2 separate regions of the Homo sapiens genome follow, and region 2 is linked to region 1. A link means that fine-mapping ties the variant in region 1 to the expression of a gene that starts in the linked region. Tissue or cell type: whole blood. Region 1 holds a variant in brackets; the other region holds the start of a gene. All regions are shown on one strand. Distances are from middle to middle.

What was found. PIP is the estimated chance that this variant, and not a neighbour inherited with it, causes the effect.
Region 2: it holds the start of SLC25A29, and the variant in region 1 is fine-mapped to the expression of SLC25A29 in whole blood (INTERVAL, PIP 0.93).

Annotation. Positions count from the first base shown.
Region 1 is chr14:100,354,181-100,359,399 of GRCh38, forward strand. WARS1 (tryptophanyl-tRNA synthetase 1) reads right to left here. Exons shown (of 11, transcript NM_004184.4): 5 at 267-386. Among named protein-coding and RNA genes, the nearest start is that of WARS1, 19 kb to the right of the region's middle. The variant GGT/G (reference allele first, on the strand shown) is at 2,202.
Region 2 is chr14:100,303,727-100,308,945 of GRCh38, forward strand. SLC25A29 (solute carrier family 25 member 29) reads right to left here and starts at 2,718. Exons shown (of 4, transcript NM_001039355.3): 1 at 2,473-2,718. The coding sequence starts at 2,506. It overlaps MIR345 (microRNA 345), which reads left to right and starts at 4,133; the gene lies at 4,133-4,230. RefSeq lists enhancers at 1,212-1,291, 1,342-1,401, 1,654-2,220, 3,429-3,498, 3,529-3,698 and silencers at 2,549-2,648, 2,709-3,178, 3,269-3,338.

The DNA of each region.
Region 1 (5,219 bases):
GCAGGCCCATGGCCATGCAGACAGGGAGCAGGATGAGAAGAGGAGCAGGCCTGGCTGACTCCAAAGCTGCGCTCTCCCCATCACTCCATGGTCCTCTAAAGTGAGCCCAGGAACAAAGTGAATGGAAGCCAAAAAAGTGCCAACTCTTGACATCTTGGTTGCTCAGCAAATGAACTAGCATGATCTTGTCAGTTCTAAACATGGTTTATAAGCAACATTCTCAATTCACTAAGAGAGTAAGAAAAGCCATAAGATCCAATACTTACTTTGTGAAAATAAATGGAATGAGGTGACCTACATGCATTGCTTCAGAAGAGGGGCCCCGGCCCGTGTACAGATAAAATGGCTTCTTATTTTCATAGGCATCAAGAACCTGATTCATATCTCTAAAGGAAAAAGGAGAAGAGGAAGAGTGTGATTTTCTGAGAAAAATATCAAGGCACTAATGCACTTTTGGAAATGGAAAATATAGACAGAGACGAAACAACATGGATAATAACTAGAATTTGTTACCTTTGGTGCTTATGATATAAATATAGACAGGAAACTTCTACTGAAATGGTTTCTCCTGTGAGTGTTTTAAAAGACAAGATGTGTAGGTTTGGAATAATGTGTTTAAAAGATGGATCCAGCTATGCAGTTACTGGGACTCCTGGAATCCCTCCAAACATCAGTGCCGACATACTGTGAGCTTGGTACACTTCCCTGGGGATACCAGGCCAACACCATATGATCCTTGCTCAGAATCACCCAGCCCCGAGGACTCTCAGACCAATACCAGGCAAACTGCATGGGACCAGACAGTCCTGGCTTAGCAGGGAAAGTAAGAATTGTCCTCTGGGAGTTCAGAGGTCAAGTGCCCAGTTGGAGATCTATCTGGGCCCCTCAGCCAGCTTGGGACTAGGTATCTTCATCTGCAAGTCACTCAAGAGTCATCCCCCTCCCTACCAGGCTGCTTCCAATCACAGCTGCCTGCGCCCCACCTCCAGAGACTGATTCAATGGATCTGAGGTGCTCTCTGGGAATGTGTTTGTTTGTTTGTTTATTTATTTATTTTTGAGACAGAGTCTCACTCTGTCACCCAGGCTGGAGTGCAGTGGTGTGATCTCTGCTCACTGCAACCTCTGCCTCCTGGGTTCAAGCGATTCTCCTGCCTCAGCCTCCCGAGTAGCTGGGCATAGTAGGCACCTGCCACTATGCCCAGCTAATTTTTTGTGTTTTTAATAGAGACGGGGTTTCACCATGTTGGCCAGGCTGGTCTCAAACTCCTGACCTCGTGATTTGCCTGCCTCGGCCTCCCAAAGTGCTGGGATTACAGGTGTGAGCCACTGCGCCTGGCCGGGAATTTGTATTTTTAAAAAGCTCCGTGAGGAGTTCCAATGTTCAGCAGGGTGGGAAACCAACGCTCGAGGATGAATGTCCTTTGTTTCTGGGTAAAGTGTCCCCAAATACAAGAGGAATAACTACCTTTTCCAGAGGTCTGGATAGGAGAATCTAGAGAACAGTATTCTGAAAGTGACTTCTCCTTATATTCCCCAAGCCAAGGGTCAACATTGCTTATCTCTGGACAGATACAATTGTGGGTGTTCTGGTTTTTGGGCTTAGTTTTCATTTTTTTTCCCCATGAAATGCTCACATACTGCTTTTGAAATAAGGAAAGAAAATAACCCATAATTTTGGAAGGAAAGAATCCTTCTTTGGTTCTCACAACTAACCATATGGGCTTACAGAAGAGAAAAAAATGTAACTGTGCCACGAGCTGCTTTTCTTGTGTTTATGTGGAGCATCTGAGAACTCACTGTGTGCTCGGTCCTGGGGTGAGGTGCTCCTGACAAGCGTGCAGAAATTTACTGGGTTCCAATTTTGAGATCATGTTTTATGAGGATGGATTCCAGCAGAGACTCATTCAGCTACTAAGGGAACCCAGTTACCTGCCCACCACTTGAAGCTTGACTGTGCATAGTAGATCTCATTTAATCCCCAATTTTACAGATGACAAAATTAGACAGAGGGGCAGTTTGAAATTTGAGAATGGGCAAATGACTCAGGTCCTATGCTTTCCTAAGCCAAGAGGCTACAGTATTACTATACTGCAGTTAATAAATAAGTCACAAAGGCAGTGAGAAGAACCATGCCATGCTAAGATAAAAAATGCTGACTACAAACCAACAAAATTAGTAAACTTTGAACCAAAGTGACTG[GGT/G]GTGTGTGTGTGTGTGGGGGGGGGTGTGGAATAAAAGAGAAGACTCAAACGGCCAAAATCAGGAATATAAGAAGGGGTATTACTACTGACCTTATAGGAATAAAAAGGATTACTACATAAGGGAATACTATGAATAACTGTATACCAATACATTAGATAACCTTGATGAAATAGACAAATTCCTAGAAACAAACTACTGAAACGAACCCAAGAAGAAATAGAAAATATACACAGATCTGGAACAAACAAAAAGACTGAATTAGTAATCAAAAAACTTCCTACAAAGAAAAGCCCAAAACCCCATTTTCACTGGTAAAGTCTATCAAATGTTCAAAAAAGAATTAATACCAATCCTTCCCAAGCTTTTCCAAAAAAAATTGAATAAGAAATACTTCCCAACTCATTCTATGAGGCCAGTATTACCCTGATACCAAACCAAAGACATTAAAAGAAAACTACAGACCAATATCCCTTATGAACACAGATGTAAAAATCCTCAGCAACTCACAAACCAAATCCAGCAACATATAAAAAAGATTATACACTATGATTGAAAATAAATTGATTTTCAACACCATGATTAAGTGGAATTTGTTCCAGGAACGCAAGGTTGATTAAACACGCAAAAACCTATCAGTGTGATACACCATACTAATAAAATAGAGGCCAAAACCCACATGATCATCTCAATAAACACAGAAAATGCATTTGATAAAATCTAACATCTTTTCATAATAAAAACACATGTTGAAGGGTATATAGAAAGCCCACAGCTAACATTATACTAAATGGTGTATATTCAGTCTTTACTGAAAGTTTTTCCCCTAAGATCAGGAATAAGACAAGGATGCTCACTTTCACCACTACTATTCAACATCCTATTGAAAGTTGAAGTCAGAGAAATTAGGAACGAAAAAAAAATCCAAATTGGAAAGGAGGAAGTAAAACTGTCTCTAATCATAGGAGATACAATCCTATATGTAGGAAATCCTATCGAATCTGCAAAAAGAAAAAAAGCATTAGCGCTAATAAACTCAGCAAAATTTCAGGATATAAGATTAATACACAAACATCAATTGTATTTTTTTTTTTTTTGAGAGGGAGTTTTGCTCTTTTTGCCCGGGCTGGAGTGCAATGGCACGATCTCGGGTCACTGCCACCTCTGCCTCCTGGGTTCAAGTGATTCTCCTGCCTTAGCCTCTTGGGTAGCTGGGATTACAGGCGCCCACCACCATGCCTGCCCAATTTTGTATTTTTAGTAGAGATGTGGTTTCACCATGTTGGTCAGGCTGGTCTCGAACTCCTGACCTCAAGTGATCCACCCGCCTCGGCCTCCCAAAGTGTTGGGATTACAGGTGTAAGCCACCGTGCCCGGCCATCAGTTGTATTTCTATATAGTAGCAATGAACAATCAAAATGAGATTAAGAAAATGCCATTTAGAATAGCATTAAAAAGATAAAATTCTAATGAATAAATCTAAGCAAAGAAGTGCAAAACCTATACACTGAAAATTACAAAACATCAATGAAAGAAATCAAAGAAGTGAAAAGACATCCCATGTTCATGGATTAGATGAATTAATATTTTAAGATGGCAATACTCCACAAATGAATCTACAGATTCAGTGCAATCCCTATCAAAATCCTAGCTGCTGCTTTTGCAGAAATGGAAAAGCTGAAATTCATATGGAAATGCAAGGGGCCCAGAATACCTAAACAATCTTGAAAAAGAACCATGTTTGAGTACTCACATTTTCTTATTTTTTTTTGAGACGGAGTCTCACTGCCACCCAGGCTGGAGTGCAGTGGCGCGATCTCGGCTCACTGCAAGCTCCGCCTCCCGGGTTCATGCCATTCTCCTGCCTCAGCCTCCCGAGTAGCTGGGACTACAGGCGCCCATCACCACACCTGGCTAATTTTTTGTATTTTTAGTAGAGATGGGGTTTCACCGTGTTAGCCAGGATGGTCTCAATCTCCTGACCTCGTGATCCGCCTGCCTTGGCCTCCCAAAGTGCTGGGATTACAGACATGAGCCACTGCGCCCAGCCAAGAATAGTCTTTTCAAAAAACAGTGCTGGGACAATTGGATACCCACAAGCAAAAGAATGAAGTTGGAGCTGTACCTCACAAATATACAAAAATTAACTCAAAAAGGATCAGAAACTGAAATGTAAGAGCTAAAACCACAAAACTCTGAGAAGAAACCATAGGTGTAAATCTTCACAACCTTCGATTAGTCAGTGGTTTCTCAGATATGACACCAAAAACACAATCAATCAAAGATAAAATAAACTGGACTTCATCAAAATTAAAAACTTTCATACTTCAAAGGACTATCAGTAGAGTGAAGAGACAACCTATATAATGGGAGCAAATATTTGCAAGTAATATTTGAATAAGAAACTAGTATCCAGAATATAGAAAGAACTATTATAACTAACAATAAAAAGACAACCCAATTAAAAAGTAGGCAAAGGATCTGAATAGACATTTCTCTAAAGATATAAAAATTGTTAATAAGCACATGAAAAGATTCTCAACATCCTTGTCATTAGGGAAATACAATCAAAACCACAATGAAATACTACTTCACACCTATTAGGATGGCTATAAAACACAACAACATGGAAAATAACAAGAGTGGGTGAAGATGTGGAGAAATGGGAAGCTTCCTATGTTGCTGGTGGGAAAGTAAAATGATACAGTTGCTGTAGAAAAGTCTGTCAGTTCCTCAAAGAGTTAAACATGGAATTACTATATAAGCCATTAATTCTATTTCGAGGTATATGCCCAAGAGAATTGAAAACATATATCCACCCAAAAACTTGTATACAAATGGTCAGAGCAGCATTGTTGATAACCAAAAAGTGAAAATAACTCAAACGTCCATCAACTAATGAATGAATAAACAAAATGTGAGGTATATCCATTCAATGGAATATTATTTGGCAATAAAAAGGAATCCAGTATGGATACATGCTACAACATGGAGGAACCTTGAAAATGTTATGCCAAG
Region 2 (5,219 bases), 50 kb before region 1:
GTCTACTGTCCTCCCTAAGCTGGGCTCCGGAGGCAATCCCCAACCAGTAGTCCTCAGGGCTGGGCGGGGTGGGGAGGAACCACTGTCCTGGGGATGGCTGGTAGCAGAGGTAGTGGAAGAGGCACCCTTCCCTCTTGGGGTTACCTCTCCTCCCGGGTTCTCCCACCCCTAGCTGAGCTTTTCTCTCTGCGCCTGCTTCTGTCCATCCAGAGCCCAGTGTCTATGTGGCCTCAAGATTTGGGTTGATCCCCCAGTAGGGGAGAGGGGGAGGCATTCCAAACCTTCCACCATGCAAGGCCTCAAGGATGCTGTCAGTCAAGATGCTGGCCCCGCCTCCCTGAGAAGTTAAAACACGTGACCCACACTAGGCGAATAGTAGGGGGTGGACAGTCCCCCTCCCCAGCCACCAAGGAGAAGCACTGGCATTATCTGCCCTGAGCCTGTAGGTTGGGGGCACCCCAAGAAGGAGCCAGGCAGGGGCTGCTGGGGTACGGGTCCCAAGGTGGGGTGCCTCTGGGCAGGCTGTCAGTGTGACCCCAGCTGTGCCAGGGACCTGGAGCCTGGGACACAGTCAGTTCACTGTCCTGAGGGGCCACCCCAGCACCCTGGAGTAAGGGGGAGAGGAGAGGACTGCAGGCTCACCCTGGCCATCAGAGGAGCATGTGGTGTGACTTTGCTTTAGTACCCCCACCTCTCTGGGCCTAGGTTTCTCCGATGAGACCAGGAGTGAGCCCCCAGGTGACTTCTGTCCTTGTCCACCTGGGAGGCTCAGGCTTACGCTTGTAGAGCCTTAGCTGGGTGGCCATTATGTGCCTGGGGGTTGCACGAAAAGCAGGGCCTGGGGGCAGGGGGGTGGCCTGTGCCCCAGTGCTACAGCACCAGACAGTGCCAGTCCTTGACCCACAAACCTGGGGCAGGGGGCATGGATATGATCTCTCCCAGGTGGGCCTATGAGGATGGGCAGCGAAGGACATTCCAGGCAAGGAGGCTGCGCGAGCGACGTGCAGAGGAGACCACAGATGTGCCGGGAGGCGCCAAGCAGGCCTGCTTTCAGGTGAAGTGTTCCTGCCCCAAACCCCGGTGTTTCCAGGAGGGCAGCACGGACGGTAGCGCCACTGCAGAAGGAACTCTGCCCATCCGGGGAAAGAATCCCCACTCCCCAAAGCCTGGAAGGAGGTGTTGGCCTGGGGACAGCCCTTCACCCCCACCCGCTGGAGCTGATAGTGGGTGGGGAGCAAGGGTGGAGCAAACAGCGAGATCAGAAGCGGGAGGGGAAGGTGAGAATGGAATCCGCAGAGGACACGCCCCCTCTGTCTCCAGGGCACCCAGCGATTAGCAGCAAATTCTGGGCTTTGTGCCCCGCAGCTTCCCACTGGGTAACCGACCGGGAAGTTCTAACTCCCCTCAGCGCACAACACCTCCCCAACACACTCCCTTTTCAACGAGTCTCTCCCCCAAGAAGCAGGCTCCGACGCCACAGATTTAATACTTAAGGCCACCGCTACCCACTCTTCCGCCAGGGCTCTCAGCGCTGGCCGGGAGCTGAGGGTTTATTCGAGCCAAATCCAAGTAGATGAAGAGGCGGTGAACAAGGGCAGGTGCTGGGAGAAAAGTGGGACCAAACAGGGATAAGCGGCCGGCCCTCTCAGCAACTCCCGCCGCCAACCACCCTCCCCCGCCCCCGACATCTAAATCCTGGTGAATAAATTAACCCTCAAGGTAAAAGCAGAGAAGCCAGAGGCCCAACAGGGAAGTGCCGTGCCCGACGCCCACGGTCGGGGCATGGGAGAGCCTGGACTGCACGCCCGCCCGGGCCCTCCCGGGGACAACTGCATGGGAGGAACCCCAGAGCCGCGACCGCGCCTCGGAGAAGGTGCCCCACACCGGCTCGCCCGACCCACCCACCACCCCCCTTCCGCCCCCAACAGCTCACAAAACCGCGTAGGAAGGGGCGGCGTTCCAAGGCGTGACTCGGCGCCAGAGTGGTTCAGTGCCCTCCAAGGCCAGCCGAGTAGGGGGTCGGCTCCGTAGCCCCAACCCCGCTGGATGGCTGCGCGGGACGGGGTGGAGTCAGTCCCGAAATATACGGCCGGGGGAGGGGACCCTGCTCCCAGTGCGCAACGGATGGGGATGGGGGAGGGGAAGGAGATGAGCCCGGGACCTCGGCGCGGGGGGCAGTGGGGCATCCTCCCGGCAGTCCTGGCCTCCGCTCAGCCACGGTGCTGCCCCGGCGCCCCAGACCTCCCGTCCGAGCGTGCCCAGAGAGAATAAAGACACCTGCCCTCGCGGACAGCCCGGGCCTGAAGTCAATTTACGCCCACGAGACCCGCCCGAGGCAAGAGAACTGTGGTCCCCATTCACAGACGCGGCGACCCCCGCCAGCGGGAAGCCGCGAGGCCAGGGCGTGCTGGTGGGCCGACCTCCCTCCCCGGACGCCTCGCCCCGGCCCGGCCCGGCCCGCCGCCTCCTTACCCCCCGCGCATCCAGCCAAGAAGTCCAGCGCCATGGCCGGGTCCCCGGCGAGGCCGCCTTTCCTCCTCGTCCTCCCCCTGAGGCCCCTCGCCGGGCTGGGCGCCGTCGGGGTCCCCGAGCGCGCGGTGCCGGGGCTGGGCCTGGCCGCTCCTCCTGGCGCGGAGCCCGGGCAGGCGCGGTCAGGGATGGTGGGGATGGCGGCAGCAGCTAGACCCGCGCTGGTCCCTCGGCGGCAGCTGACTCGCTGGATCCCCTCCGGCCCGCGGTCCCTCACCTCGGGCCGCGCGCCCCGCCCCTCGTGCCTGCCGGCAGGGCCCGGGTGGGGGCGCCGAGTGAGGCCAATGGGCGGGCACGGCGCGGACAACACCCCGGGCACTGCGCTTCGCCGCCGCGCCTCATTGGCCGGGCGTGCGCGGGAGGCGGGGCGCGGGGGACGTGGTGGGCGCGCGGGCGGGGCGCGGGGACGCCTCAGACAAAGAGCGCGCTGGGTGCGCAGGTCCGGCGGGAGGGGACGCGCGGGGTGGCGGGGTTGAGCCGAGGACTCCCCCACCCGGAGTACGCGGGGTGGCTCTGGTCTGGACCGGGTCGGGAACCGGACCCTGGGTTCGGAGTCCGGCGCCGCCGCAGAACCTCAGCGCCCTAGTCTGTGCCGTGCGGACCCTGCCGCGAAAACGGCCGTGGAGCGCCGGGACGTTCCGAGGCCCGCAGACTGGGACGCCGCTAGTTGCGAAACTCCGCGAGCGGGAATCGCCCGTGGGGAGCCTCTGCCCGTCCCGCCTGCGCGCCCGCGGCGGCGGTGGCCTCCGGGGCTTCCGGACTCCTGGCCGAACCCGCCGGGTTCTGGGGGTCGGACGCGCACGGGCGCTTCCTGCGGAGCCTGAGGCTGGGATTTGGGCGGAGAGCAGGGAACCTTAAAAGGGAAAGGGGCCATGGGCAAAGGGCGCAGCAGGCCTTCGGGCCACAGCTCCTTCCCGAGGACTGCGGGTCGCGGGAGCCGCGGAAGGTTGTGGAGAGAGGGAGGTTCCTGGACTGGGCTGCAGAGTGGAGTCGGGCCAGATCGCAGCGCCTCCGTCAGCGGCGGCCGGACGGGGCGAGACCGGAGGGGCTCGGTAGGGGCCGCGCTCAGGCGCTGAAGTCGGAGGGTGCTTGGCTCTGGGTCACCAGGGTATCCATGGGCTGCGGGGATGAATGAGAGCCGAGTCTGACTCGGCCCCCCAGGAGTCCCTGACATTCGCAGTGGCAAGGGACTGCCCTGGTCCCTGTGGAGCGTCCCATTCGGTGACTTCCCACCAGCCCTTCCCCAGCGCCTCTGGAGGTCCAGACTGTCAGGTTGGAGCCTGGGAGCAGGGACGGGCCAGGCGCTTTCTCTTCGCTGTAGGAGTCAGATCAGCCTTAGGCCGGGCCCAGCTTCCTTCTTTAGGGCCTGCAGGCAGGCAAGGCCACACCGTGTGCCACGTTTCCAGGTTTAGGGTCACATGGTTCTTTTATCCAAATTCCAGTGGGTACCTACCTCCTGGAGGTGCAGGTCGAAAGGTTCTGTGTATTTGGTACTAGGACACACAGGTAGGTGTTGTCAGTAGTGCAGCCTGGTGCTAGGGGCAGGGGTCCCCAGTGCTCATGTTAGTTTCCTTTTAGAGTCTAAGTAGAATGTTAAGCAGAGACCCAAACCCTAGGTCTGCTGACTCCTAGTCCAGGGCTCGTGATGGCTGGTGGGCCCTGAACGAGGGGTCTGGAGGCCTGGGTTTGAATATCGACAGCCTCTCTGACCCACTTGGTTGCCTCAGGGAGGCAGGTGTGCGGATGGGGGAGAGTGGCCCATGGGCCAGAAAAGCAGTGGTATGGGGGCCCCAAGAGAAGCCCAGACCCAAAAGGGCAGGAGCTGGCTGTGGGGCTACTCAGGTGGCTGGAGGCCTCCTGCAGACACAGTGATTACACTGGACTACCTACATGTAGTCACTTACCTTAGGAACAGGATGTCCTTGGGATGCTGGAGGGCTCATGAGGTAAAGCACAAATCCCTGCACATCCATTCCTGGTTGAGGAGGTTTGGGAGGGAAATCCAGTACCTTGACAGCATGTGGCAGTAGTGAGAAAATGATGGAAACGGATAAGGAGACAAGCATGACCTGTTTTGCTTTGTTATTGAGAGAATGCACATGCCTTGAAAATTATGCTTGGGGCAGGTTGCACTGAGCTGTCAGTCCCTGGGGTCCTTGGGAAGGGGCCTAGTAGCCTGGTAAACAGTAGGTATTCCATAGTTGAGCTTCAGAAACCTCCTTGAGGCTGGGTTCAGTGGCTCATGCCTGTAATCCAGGCACTTTGGGAGGCTGAGGCAGGAGGATCGCTTGAAGCCAGGAGTTTGAGGCCAGCCTGGGCAACATAGTGAGGCCCCATCTCTAAAAAAAAAAAAAATCGGCAGGATGTGGTGGCGCATGCCTGCAGGCCTGTAGTCCTAGCTACTCAGGAGGCCGAGGCAGGAGGGTCGCTTGAGCCCAGGAGGTCAAGGCTGCAGTGAGCTATGATCGAACCATTGTGCACCAGCCTGGATGACAGAGCAAGACCCTATTTCAAAAAGAAAAACCTCCTTGCAGGGAGGGTCCTTTGTTGAGAGAGCTGAGGCAGGCCGTGTGAGGGCAGCAGTGGGATCGTGCCAGGCCTGGGAGATGAGGAGTGCGGGCCCTTAGCTGTGCACTTTGCAAGGAGAGGGCAGGGTTCTGGGTGTGTGTGTGTGGTCGGGGGAGGGCTGT